3 linked regions of the Homo sapiens genome follow. The protein of the gene in region 1 purifies or fractionates together with the protein of each later gene. This does not show direct contact. Each region holds a gene or a part of one and is shown in the gene's direction. Other genes may lie near its edges.

Region 1 (3,651 bases):
CTCCCACCTCAGCCCCGCAACGAGCTCACCTTGCAGGTTCAAGCGACTCTCCTGCCTCAGCCTCCCAAGTAGCTGGGACTGCAGGCGCGCACCACTATGCCTGGCTAATTTTTGTATTTTTTGTAGAGATGATGTCTGGCCATATTGTCCAGGCTGGTCTTGAACTCCTGGACTCGAGTGATCTGCCCACCTTGGCTTCCCTGAAACCCTGTCTCTACTAAAAATAGAAAACTAGCCAGGCAAGGTGGTGCATGCCTGTAATCCCAGCTACTTGGTAGGCTGAGGCAGGAGAGTCGCTTGAACCTGCAAGGTGGAGGTTGCAGTGAGCCAAGATTGCACCACTGCACTCCAGCCTGGGCAAGAGGGCACTCCAGCCTGGGCAACAAGAGCGAAACTCCATCTCAAAAAAAAAGGAGAATTCTTCCCACAGAGTACTGAAGACTGACTTTATTTTCTCCCAGTCATCTATGTTGATGGCCAAGAAGCTGCATAAATAAGTTATTATCATTTATTCAGCAAATATTTGTTGCCGGGCGCAGTGGCTCACGCCTGTAATCCCAGCACTTTGGGAGGCCGAGGCGGGCGGATAACGAGGTCAGGAGATCGAGACCATCCTGGCTAACAGTGAAACCCCGTCTCTACTAAAAATACAAAAAATTAGCCGGGCGTGGTGGCAGGCGCCTGTACTCCCAGCTACTCAGGAGGCTGAGGCAGGAGAATGGTGTGAACCCGGGAGGTGGAGCTTGCAGTGAGCCAAGATCGTGCCACTGCTCTCCAGTCTGAGCGACAGAGCAAGACTCTGTCTCAAAAAAAAAAAAAAAAAATTTGTTGAGTACTCACTGTGTGCAACGCACTATTTGGAGTACTTGGATGTGTCGGTAAGCAAAACAAAGTTTCCTTCCCTCATGGAGCCACGTTCTAGTTTGGGGGGAAAAGATAAACAGATTCAGTAAATAAGTGAATTATCAACATATTAGAACGTGATAAGAAATGTGGGGGAAAGGAAAAGTAGAGCAGGATAAGAAAGGGAATTGGGAGTCTAAGGTGCATGACGGGGGGCAAGTTACCACCTTAAATCAGGTGGTCAGGGTAGACCTCATTGAGAGGGTGACATGAGCAAAGGCTTGGAGGATGTGAGGGAGTCAGCCATGTGGGTTCCTGGAAAAGAACATCCCTGGCAGAAGAAACAGCCAGTGCTGAGGCAGGAGGGGGTCTCGTTTGTAAAATGAGTGCAGATGGGCTGAGTGGTGTGAAGGGCATGGGCCTATTTGGGGCAGGAAGGGGAGAGCCGCCCCTTCCCCATTCCTAGCAGTAGGGGTTCCTGTCTGATCTGGAAGCTGCTGAACTGACCACAGATCCAGCTGATCTCTGCTGCCTCTCCAGGAGGAGAGGGTGGTGGGAGCCTTTCCTATGGTCAATTGTGCCTTTTCTCCCCTGCAGCTTCTTACACCAGTAATTTGGCCTACAGCTTCTATAGTCACAAGCTCTATGCCGAGGCCTGTGCCATCTCTGAGCCGCTCTGTCAGCACCTGGGTTTGGTGAAGCCAGGCACTTATCCCGAGGTGCCTCCTGAGAAGGTACAAGGGAATGAGAGATGCAGGAAAGGAGCTTATGTGGTTGGGGAGCGGGGGGAGCGGGGAAGGGCCTCACCAGCACCCTGCCTTGGAGTGGGAGGTTAATAGCAGCATGTTGACACCAGTATCTGGAGCAGTGTTTCCCAAACCTCACTGTACTGTTACTTACTGTTGACTCATTTTTTTTTTTTTTTTTTTTTGAGACGAGTCTCGCTCTGTCGCCCAGGCTGGAGTGCAGTGGCACAATCTTGGCTCACTGCAACCTTTGCCTCAGCAAAGGTTCAAGCAATTCTCCTGCCTCAGCCTCCCAAGTAGCTGGGATTACAGGTGCCCACCACCACGCCCAGCTAATTTTTGTATTTTTTGTAGAGACGGGGTTTCACCATTTTGGTTGGCCAGGCTGGTCTCAAACTCCAGACCTCAGGTGATCCGCCTGCCTCAGCCTCCCAAAGTGCTGGGATTACAGGTGTGAGCCACCGCAGCCGGCCTGACTCACTTTTTATATTTAGCCTGGTCCTAAGCTACTGGTTTCCAGCCAAGCTGCACATTAGAATCACCTGAGTGACCTTTAAGAAAATTCTAATGTCTGCCCCGAGTTAATTGCATCAGAATCTCTAGTGTTTGCCGGGCGTGATGGCTCACGCCTATAATTCCAGCACTTTGGGAGGCTGAGGCAGGTGGATCACCTGAGGTCTGGAGTTTGAGACCAGCCTGTCCAACATGGTGAAACCCCGTCTCTACTGAAAATACAAACATTAGCCAGGCGTGGTGGCATGTGCCTGTAATCCCAGCTACTTTGGAGGCTGAGGCAGGAGAATTGCCTGAACCCAGGAGGTGGAGTTTGCAGTGAGCCGAGATTGTGCTACTGTACTCCAGCCTGGGCTACAGAGCAAGACTCCATCTCACATCTGAATATTTTCAAAGATCCCCCAGGTGGTCCTTTGAGCAAGGAGAGTGAGAACCTGGGTTCTTGGTTTTTTGGTTTTTTTTTTTTTTTTTTTTTTTTTTTTTTGGAGACTGAGTCTTGCTCTTGCTTTGTCACCCAGGCTGGAGTGCAGTGGCACGATCTCGGCTCACTGCAACCTCCACCTCCTGGGTTCAAGCAATTCTCTGCCTCAGCCTCCTGAGTAGCTGGGATTATAGGCATGCGCCACCATGCCTGGCTAATTTTTGTATTTTTAGTAGAGACGGGGGTTTCATCATCTTGGCCGGGCTGGTCTTGAACTCCTGACCTCATGATCCACCCGCCTCGGCCTCCCAAAGTGCTGGGATTACCGGCGCAAGCCACCGCGCTGGGCAAGAACCAGTGTTCTTAAGCAAGAATACCTGTGAACTGATGCATTGGCGGGATTGGCAAGCAAGATGAGTCATAGAGGGGCTTGGGTTTCATCTTAACTGAGATGATAAGCCTCTAAAGGATTTAAGTGGAGGCATGACAGCAGACAGGCATTTTGGATTTCCCTGACTTCGCTGTGATGAATGGAGTGCAGGAGAAAAGACCGGGTAATCAGGCTGCTATAGTATTCTAGGCAGGGAAGGGTGGGCTGAACTGAAGCAGCTGCACGAGGGATGGAATGCAGTGGATCGGTGCGAGAAGCCAAGGATTAACCTGGTAGGTGACTGGCGGGAGGGAGAGCGAGAGAAGGGAACATCAGAGATGGCCCCACATTTCTTACTCAGGAGAAGGCAGTGCCATTTGCTGAGAAGGATTACAGGAGAAGCAGGTTTTCAAGGGTGTGGATGATGAACATAGGGGTGGAGTGGATTGCAGCCTCTGAGTTGAAGGCACTCAGAGTATTTCATTCTTAGGTGTCTCCTGCCTTGGGTGGGTGTGGCTCAGGAGGCCCACCTGCCAACCCCGCCCCCTCATGTGGTGTATGTACCTATTGCATGCATATCCCCTTCCACCATACACACTCACTGGTTCCTCTCCAGTTTGGTCTGTTCCCTTTCTCTGGTCAGTTGCACAGGTGCTTCCGGCTACAAGTAGAGAGTTTGAAGAAACTGGGTAAACAGGCCCAGGGCTGCAAGATGGTGATTTTGTGGCTGGCAGCCCTGCAACCCTGTAGCCCTGAAC
Region 2 (3,651 bases), on another chromosome or scaffold:
TTTTGTTTGTTTGTTTGTTTGTTTTGTTTTTTGAGACGGAGTCTTGCTCTGTCGCCCAGGCTGGAGTGCAGTGGCGCAATCTCTGCTCACTGCAAGCTCCGCCTCCTGAGTTGATGCCATTCTCTTGCCTCAGCCTCCTGAGTAGCTGGGACTACAGGCGCCTGCCACAGCACCCAGCTAATTTTTTGTATTTTTAGTAGAGACGGGGTTTCACTGTGGTCTCGATCTCCTGACCTCGTGATCTGCCCGTCTCGGCCTCCCAAAGTGCTGGGATTACAGGTGTGAGCCACCGCACCCGGCCAATTATCCCATTTTACAGATGAGAAAGCTGAGGCATAGAGGGTTAAAGTAACTTGAGCAAGGTCTTTCAACAATGACAGATCTGAAATTTGAGTGCATCTGATTTAGTTCCAGAGATTATGCTCTTTACCATCTTACGGACTTTTCTTGTAGTCTTTAGTATTACGGACTTTTAATTGAAATTTCTGATTAAGATCATTTATGTTCCTTGAGTTATTTATGTATTCACTATTATTTCTTCAAGATTATCCATTTTTTTTTCACCTGAGTCTTACCTCACCTTTTATCTTACCCTGACAGGAGACTGTTGGGCAGAGTACTTGATTTTTAAATGTGGTCTTTTGGGGCTTGTGTACTTGCAGTGTCCTGACGTTCGTTTGAATATCATCTCCAATTTGGATTGTGTAAATGAAGTGATTGGAATCCGTCAGCTCTCTCAGTCTCTCCTTCCTGCCATAGTGGAGCTGGCAGAAGATGCCAAATGGAGGGTCCGCCTGGCCATCATTGAGTATATGCCGCTGCTGGCAGGCCAGCTGGTGAGTATGTGTTGCTCCATGAACTGCAGGGTAGTGTCAGATAGTGACAATTTACCATGGCAAGTAGGAGGCCTAGTAGCCTGTATGCTTATGTTTGTTTAGATGCATGAAAGTATGGCCTTGTTCTTGTTACCTATAGGATGGTTTTTATGTTTGTTAGTGCATACGTTTCTTTTCTTTTAAGATGGAGTTTCACTGTTGTTGCCCAGGCTGGAGTGCAATGATGCAATCTTGGCTCACTGCAACCTCCACCTCCTGGGTTTAAGCGATTCTCCTGTCTCAGCCTCCCAAGTAGCTGGGATTACAGGAATATGCCACCACACCCAGCTAATTTTGTATTTTTAATAGAGATGGGGTTTTACCATGTTGGTCAGGCTGGTCTTGAATTCCTGACCTCAGGTGATTCACCCGCCTCAGCCTCCCAAAGTGCTGGGATTCCAGGCGTGAGCCACTGCATCTGGCCTATTAGTGCATACATTTCTAACAAAAAGGTATAGGTTGAGTATCCCTCATCTAAATACGCTTGGGACCAGCATGTTTGGGACCAGAAGTGGATTTTGGAATATTTGCATTATAAATATTTACTGGTTGAGCAGCCCAAATTCAAAAATGCAAAGTCCAGAATGCTCCAATGAGCATTTCCTTTGAGCATCATATCAGTGCTCAAAAAGTTTTGGATTTTGGAGCATTTCACATTTTGGATTTTTGGATTTGGGATGCTTAATCTGTATTACAGAAACATATTTCACCTCATCACCACCGAAAAACAAAGCCATAGAATAATCAGTTTCTTGGTATATATAATGTAAATTTTATAATATTTAATGCCTTTGTGACTTAAGAAATGTTTAACTGAGAAGAAAAGGGATTATGGTTTTAGGGTAAGTCTGCTGTGATTTTTGCTCAAGGAAACTTCCCTGTTTGCCTTGTATTCTAAGCAAAATGTCCCTAGGTACCACTTGCCCTACATTCTGATTAAAGGGAGTTGAGGAATCACCATATAGAAAAGAAGTATTGAAAGGCCGGGCACAGTGGCTGACACCTGTAAACCCAGCACTTTGGGAGCCAGAGGCAGGCGAATCACTTGAGGCTAGGAGTTCCAGACCAGCCTGGCCAACATGGTGAAACCCCATCTCTACTAAAAATACAAAAATTAGCTGGGCACGGAGGTGCACACCTGTAATACCAGCTACTCGGGAGGCTGAGGCAGGAGAATCGCTTGAACCCAGGAGGCGAAGGCTGCAGTGAGCCAAGATTGCACTACTGCACTGCAGCCTGGGCAACAGAGTAAAACTTTGTGTCAAAAAAAAAAAAACAAAACAAAAACAAAAACTGAAGCTTGTAATGTTAGTATTTTGGTCAAAGTCCACATTATCACATTATCTGTTACTGTTTGAGTTTCGTGATCAGTGTTACCCTAACTAATACCATGTTAGTTAAAATTTCAAAGCTGGGTTTTATAGCCACATCCTTTCCTTTTTTTGAGTAGGTGGCCTAGACAGTTCTAAGTTTGATGTACCTTCATCTCTGTTGGTAGCACTTATTACAGAGTATTGTAATTGTCTGTTACAGTCTAGTTGGAGAGATGGGTGATCTCTTTTAGGGCAGGGACTGTATTTTATTTCCAGTCCCTACCATAGTGCCCGTCATTAATTAGGCACTTAACATTTTTTATTTTGGGGGCAGGGTCTTGCTGTTGCCCAGGCTGGTCTTGAACTCATGGCCTCAAATGATCCTCCTGCCTCGGCCTCCTGAGTAGCTGATAATAGGCATGAGCCACTGTGTATAGCCAACATTTGTTGATTGTTGAGTATTTTTTGAGAAAGATGTGTCAGTTTACTATTGACATCGCTACAGTTTGTTTCCCCTTCCTCACTCCCACTTCCATTCCTTTCAGGTCACAACATATGGAATTTATTTTTTCTTGTCTTGAACCCCTGAATTTGTATTTTTAATTTTAGTACATTTAGTTTATGAACATGCAATTTGTGGATGTCTGTGGCATTATATGTTTTATAAAATTGAAAGTGTCCGATTCTTTGAAAAGTATACCAGAGGTATTAGTGCATGGCAAATGGGATCAGGTGAAGTTATTTTGTCATCCTTTTTGTCTGTCACTCCCAAGTGCTATGGGTCATCTTCTCTTCACTGGTGATTGTCATGGATCTACTTTTCAGAGTGGAGAGGAGCAGTGATTAACTGATTTGCTGAAGACCAAAACTATCTGGAAGGGAGGGTGCATTTTAGTACCATTTCTTTTAACCTCTGCTCCTTCTAGACCTGGAAAGTTTCCCAGGGTTGCTAGCTCTATAGAGAGCAGTGTGAAAGCAAGGCAGATGGTGTCTTTGGCTGACTTACACCTGTCTGGCAGGGGTGACATGCCTCAGTCATGAACATTTTGCTTTACAATTTTAACTTCTTGTTAGTATATATATTCTCCTTAATTTCTCTTCATATCTAAATATTTTTATATCAGATAGTCATTTTATAAAATTCTCTCAAGACTTTATGTATGACCTGGCTTGTGGACGATGTTAAGTAAGTGTAAAGTTAAACTACAAAAACCGGAAAATAGGCCAGGCGTAGTGGCTCACGCTTGTAATCCCAGCACTTTGGGAGGCCTAGGTGGGTGGATCACCTGAGGTCAGGAGTTTGAGCCCAGCCTGACCAACATGGTGAAACCCCATCTCTACTATACAAAAAATTTAGCCGGGTGTGGTGGTGGGTGCCTGTTACTTGGGAGGCTTCTTGGGAGGCTGAGGCAGGAGAATTGCTTGAACCCAGGAGGCGGAGGTTGTAGTGAGCTGACATTGCA
Region 3 (3,651 bases), on another chromosome or scaffold:
AGCAGTATATAGCCTCCCTGCAGTGACAACTTGGCTGCCACTGACTGAGTAGTGGCAAGTCAGACTGGCCTATAGCCTGCAGGCTGGGCTGGGGCCCTGAGAAGCAGCAGGGGAGGACAGAGAGAGGAGGAGCGAGATAGAGGAGGAGAAAGTGGATGCTGAAGAAGTTGAAGGTGCTTCTCTACACAATCACAATCATGGGTCATGCCCCCACCATCTTCAAGGTTACAGGGGTGGACTGGGCTAGGCTAGTTGCCTCGCAACATCCCACCCACTCCACTGAAGGCTGTTCTTTGGTAACATGAACCCCTTTGAGACTGCCCTAAAAGCTCTTGTAACTGGTATGGTGTGGGAGATGGGGATGGAAGGAGGAGACGGTAGACCACAGGACTGCCGAAGGCCCCTGTGGTTGTGGATCTGTGGCAGTTGCCACACCCTAGGCATGGCCCTGCCTATAAGTTGAGGTTTTCCCCACATCTGGTTTTGAATGTGTCCTGTTTTATGGCATCTGTGGCCTGTACACTGGGTTCTTCATCTAAAAAATGGTGTAGTCAAAGCCATTGGGAAATAGCTCCATGCCTGCCACCATATGCTGAGTCAATCTAAGCTTTCCAACTTCTCCCTTGGAGATCTATATAATGTTTGTAGGTGCTTAGATGATAATTACAAAAGCAATCAGGCCATCCGCGTAGGGATATAATATCTCCTTTGCCATCAAGGAAGTCACTGAAGGGCTAGATAATTCTAGGTATGTTTAATAACACTGGAAAACTATCATGTTACACTAGCTCATGAACTTGCTGTGGGAAAGATGTTCTGTTGCTTCTTACAATTATTTTGGCTTGAATACAGCCAGTTGGGTCCGTGGTGAAAACTCCCTCTTCATCTTTATGTAAAATTCCTACTTCTTGATTTTCCAACTTTATGGCAACTCTGGCTCCAAATCAGAAAGGACAGCTGGTTTATTTGTGTTTAAATCATAATTCCAGTGTGAGGATAGACTGTTGTAAATCTATACGGAGATGAAAAAATGAAAAAAGCACCTCCAGACTGCAATGAGTTTGCCATTAGATGAGGTGTTGTGGACCCTGAGTCTGACCGTCCTTGCTAATGAAGAGAAGAGATGGCCTCTTGAGTCAGATGGAGTGGGGAGGGTGGCAGGAATTTGGGGACTTGGAACAGGCACTCAGCCAGGGCTTACTTTGTCTCTGTGGTACGTTTCATCCCGAGGCTCTTGGGACAGAGGGTTGACAGAGTATGGAGGGAGAAGCAAACCCATTTTCTTTTCTCTTCCCACCCCACCCTGCTTTCCATTTTCTTTTTAAATACCATGAAATTCCTGGTCTGCTTCATGGTATTTCCATGTGTTGAAAACATCTTCCCTGGAGATTTGGATACCAAAATGTCCACTAGAATTTCTTCCACTTTAGAAACAAGACATTTAATCTTCTCTTTTTTAAGACACATGAATAGCTAAAGTGATAAAAGTGTCAGGATGTTGGAATAGTAGAGTAATAGGAGAAGATTCAAGTTATGGCTCTTGGGCTCAACCTTGACCTTGACGACATTGATTAGGTTTTAGGAGGAGAGTGGTATATTTACATCATCTGTTCCTGTACCTCTCTGGTGTGGTACCAACAATTCAGTCATTAACCACCATATGTGTCATAACACTTGACATCCCGGACCCAGAAAGGGGAAGGTACCTGTCCAAAGGCACCCAGCTGGATCAAGACCTTCAGTAGTCATGAGTGCTGAAAAGATTTTAGTGCCTCCCCATATGTAATTCCAAGTGAAAGCAATACTAAACCTTTAAACAAAAATGTTACTCTTTTTAAATGGCTCAAAGCTCACATGGATGTTGAAATTAAAATATCTTACTAGATTCTTTCTCCCTTCCTCTCTGTCTTTTGTACCCCTGCTGTTGGTGGCCTAATCATGTATTTAATCTGCTGATTTGGGAATGTGGTACCGGCTGGGTCACACAGCAGGTCAGTGACAGGAGGCCTCCACCTAGAAGCCATGCCTTCTGACAACCAGACTAGTGCTCTGCCCTCTGCAGTGATGCTAAGTTCAAAGTCAGTTGTTCTTCGAGAGTCATTTTCTTGGCATTTTCTCTAGTTGGAACTTGTCCAGGATGAGAAATAACTCCTGTTACCTTTAGTAACTGAGGGCACCCTGTGGTTCTGTAGTTGTGGCCGGGGGTGAGCTGAAGCTGGAGAGGAGAAAGGAAGGTCAAACTTTCTCATATAGAGAATATAGAGAATAGGTGTGAGGCAACAGGCTCTCTTGTTAAAGCAAAACATAGTCTTCTTTGAATGGAAAATTGCTCCAGAAAAAGGATCTTCAGGTGGGAAGGGGTGGCTGGCCAGTGACCCTGACACTGTTGCAATCCCTCCTGATCCCTCTGCCATCTTTATACCTGTTCTTCTCCCTTGTAGCTTTCAATCCAGTTGTAGACACTACTTGCCACACACCTGCATCCTGACTATTTTCTGTTATTCTAGTAGAGGCTGGTTGGCATTTCAGAAGGCACCTTTTATTAAAAACCAATGGGAACAAGAAAGTAACATTATTACCAAAAGTGCATTTAGCATACACATTTACAGGGTATGGATTTCTTATCCTTCAGTGCTCAAGTAGCTTAACAGGCTCACTGGCTTTGCTGCTGTATTCCCTTTCTGAAGGCCTCAAATCGTCTTTTCCTTAGATCATTATTTTCTAGCCTCGAAAAGTGGGCACAACTGCGTCTGGACCCTGTCTGACCTTTGTGCTGGGTGCTAAAGACCCAGAGGTGAATAAGACCCAATGTCTCCATTCGAGGAGCTGCCAAGCTGCAGAGGTAGGTGCCATCTCATTCCTGACCACATCAGCATGTGGTGCCTGGGAATCAGGTCTTATTTAGGTGGAGGAGAGCTGATAACCAGAACCAGGACCCTAGTTCACATACCAGAAGATTCTTCTGCTCAGTCCGGTTTGGCGTCCAAAGATGGAATTTGGACTTTTAGAATTCCCTATGGTAAAAACAAAAATAAAAACCAATCTGTCATTCTGTTAGTGTTATTGTGAATTTAGCAATGCTTTTAAATGAATTTGCAGTTTTAAACACTATAATGTTATCTTCATGCATATGAAGAGTAGTGCTTATTCAGTCCATAGACAATGCTTGGTGGATCTGCAAACTAACAGACTTCTTGTGATAACTCTATGGTCCTCTAGAGTCCTCTACTGTCAGTTGGGAATCGCTGGCCTTCCTGGTTCAAGCTATCAGCTCTCCCCTGCTCTGTGGAACTCCACAATTTCACTCAAATAAGCCCTCATTGAAGTTTTCAAGTTAGAGGGCACAGGATGGCAATCTTAACAGTCAAGACTACTTTAATAATGCCACAAACAGGAGGTATGTTTATTAAGTGTACAGGTAGTTTGCAGTAAAGTGCTTTGTATGAGGTCATGCACAAGACCACTAGGTATCAGCCAGTTAACTTGGGAGGTTTGAGCAATTAGGCAGCTCTTCCTCCCTCCCTTCCTCTCTCCCTCCCCCCTCCCTCCCTCCCTCCCTCCCTCCTTTCCTCCCTTCCATTCCCTTCCTCCCTCCCTCTCTTTCTAAAATGTAAGCTCCTCAATAAGATATAAGCTCCTTGAGGGTAGTAG

What was found.
Region 2: the proteins of ESPL1 (region 1) and PPP2R1B purify together in Homo sapiens (co-immunoprecipitation; one study listed by IntAct). This does not show direct contact.
Region 3: the proteins of ESPL1 (region 1) and NHSL2 purify together in Homo sapiens (co-immunoprecipitation; one large-scale study listed by IntAct). This does not show direct contact.

What each region holds. Positions count from the first base shown.
Region 1 is NC_000012.12:53,271,281-53,274,931, forward strand, and holds part of ESPL1 (separin), read left to right. Parts: intron 1-1,440; coding exon 1,441-1,577; intron 1,578-3,536; coding exon 3,537-3,651. UniProt on the Homo sapiens protein: Caspase-like protease, which plays a central role in the chromosome segregation by cleaving the SCC1/RAD21 subunit of the cohesin complex at the onset of anaphase. During most of the cell cycle, it is inactivated by different mechanisms.
Region 2 is NC_000011.10:111,749,344-111,752,994, reverse strand, and holds part of PPP2R1B (serine/threonine-protein phosphatase 2A 65 kDa regulatory subunit A beta isoform), read left to right. Parts: intron 1-662; coding exon 663-836; intron 837-3,651. UniProt on the Homo sapiens protein: The PR65 subunit of protein phosphatase 2A serves as a scaffolding molecule to coordinate the assembly of the catalytic subunit and a variable regulatory B subunit.
Region 3 is NC_000023.11:71,913,721-71,917,371, forward strand, and holds part of NHSL2 (NHS-like protein 2), read left to right. Parts: intron 1-3,651.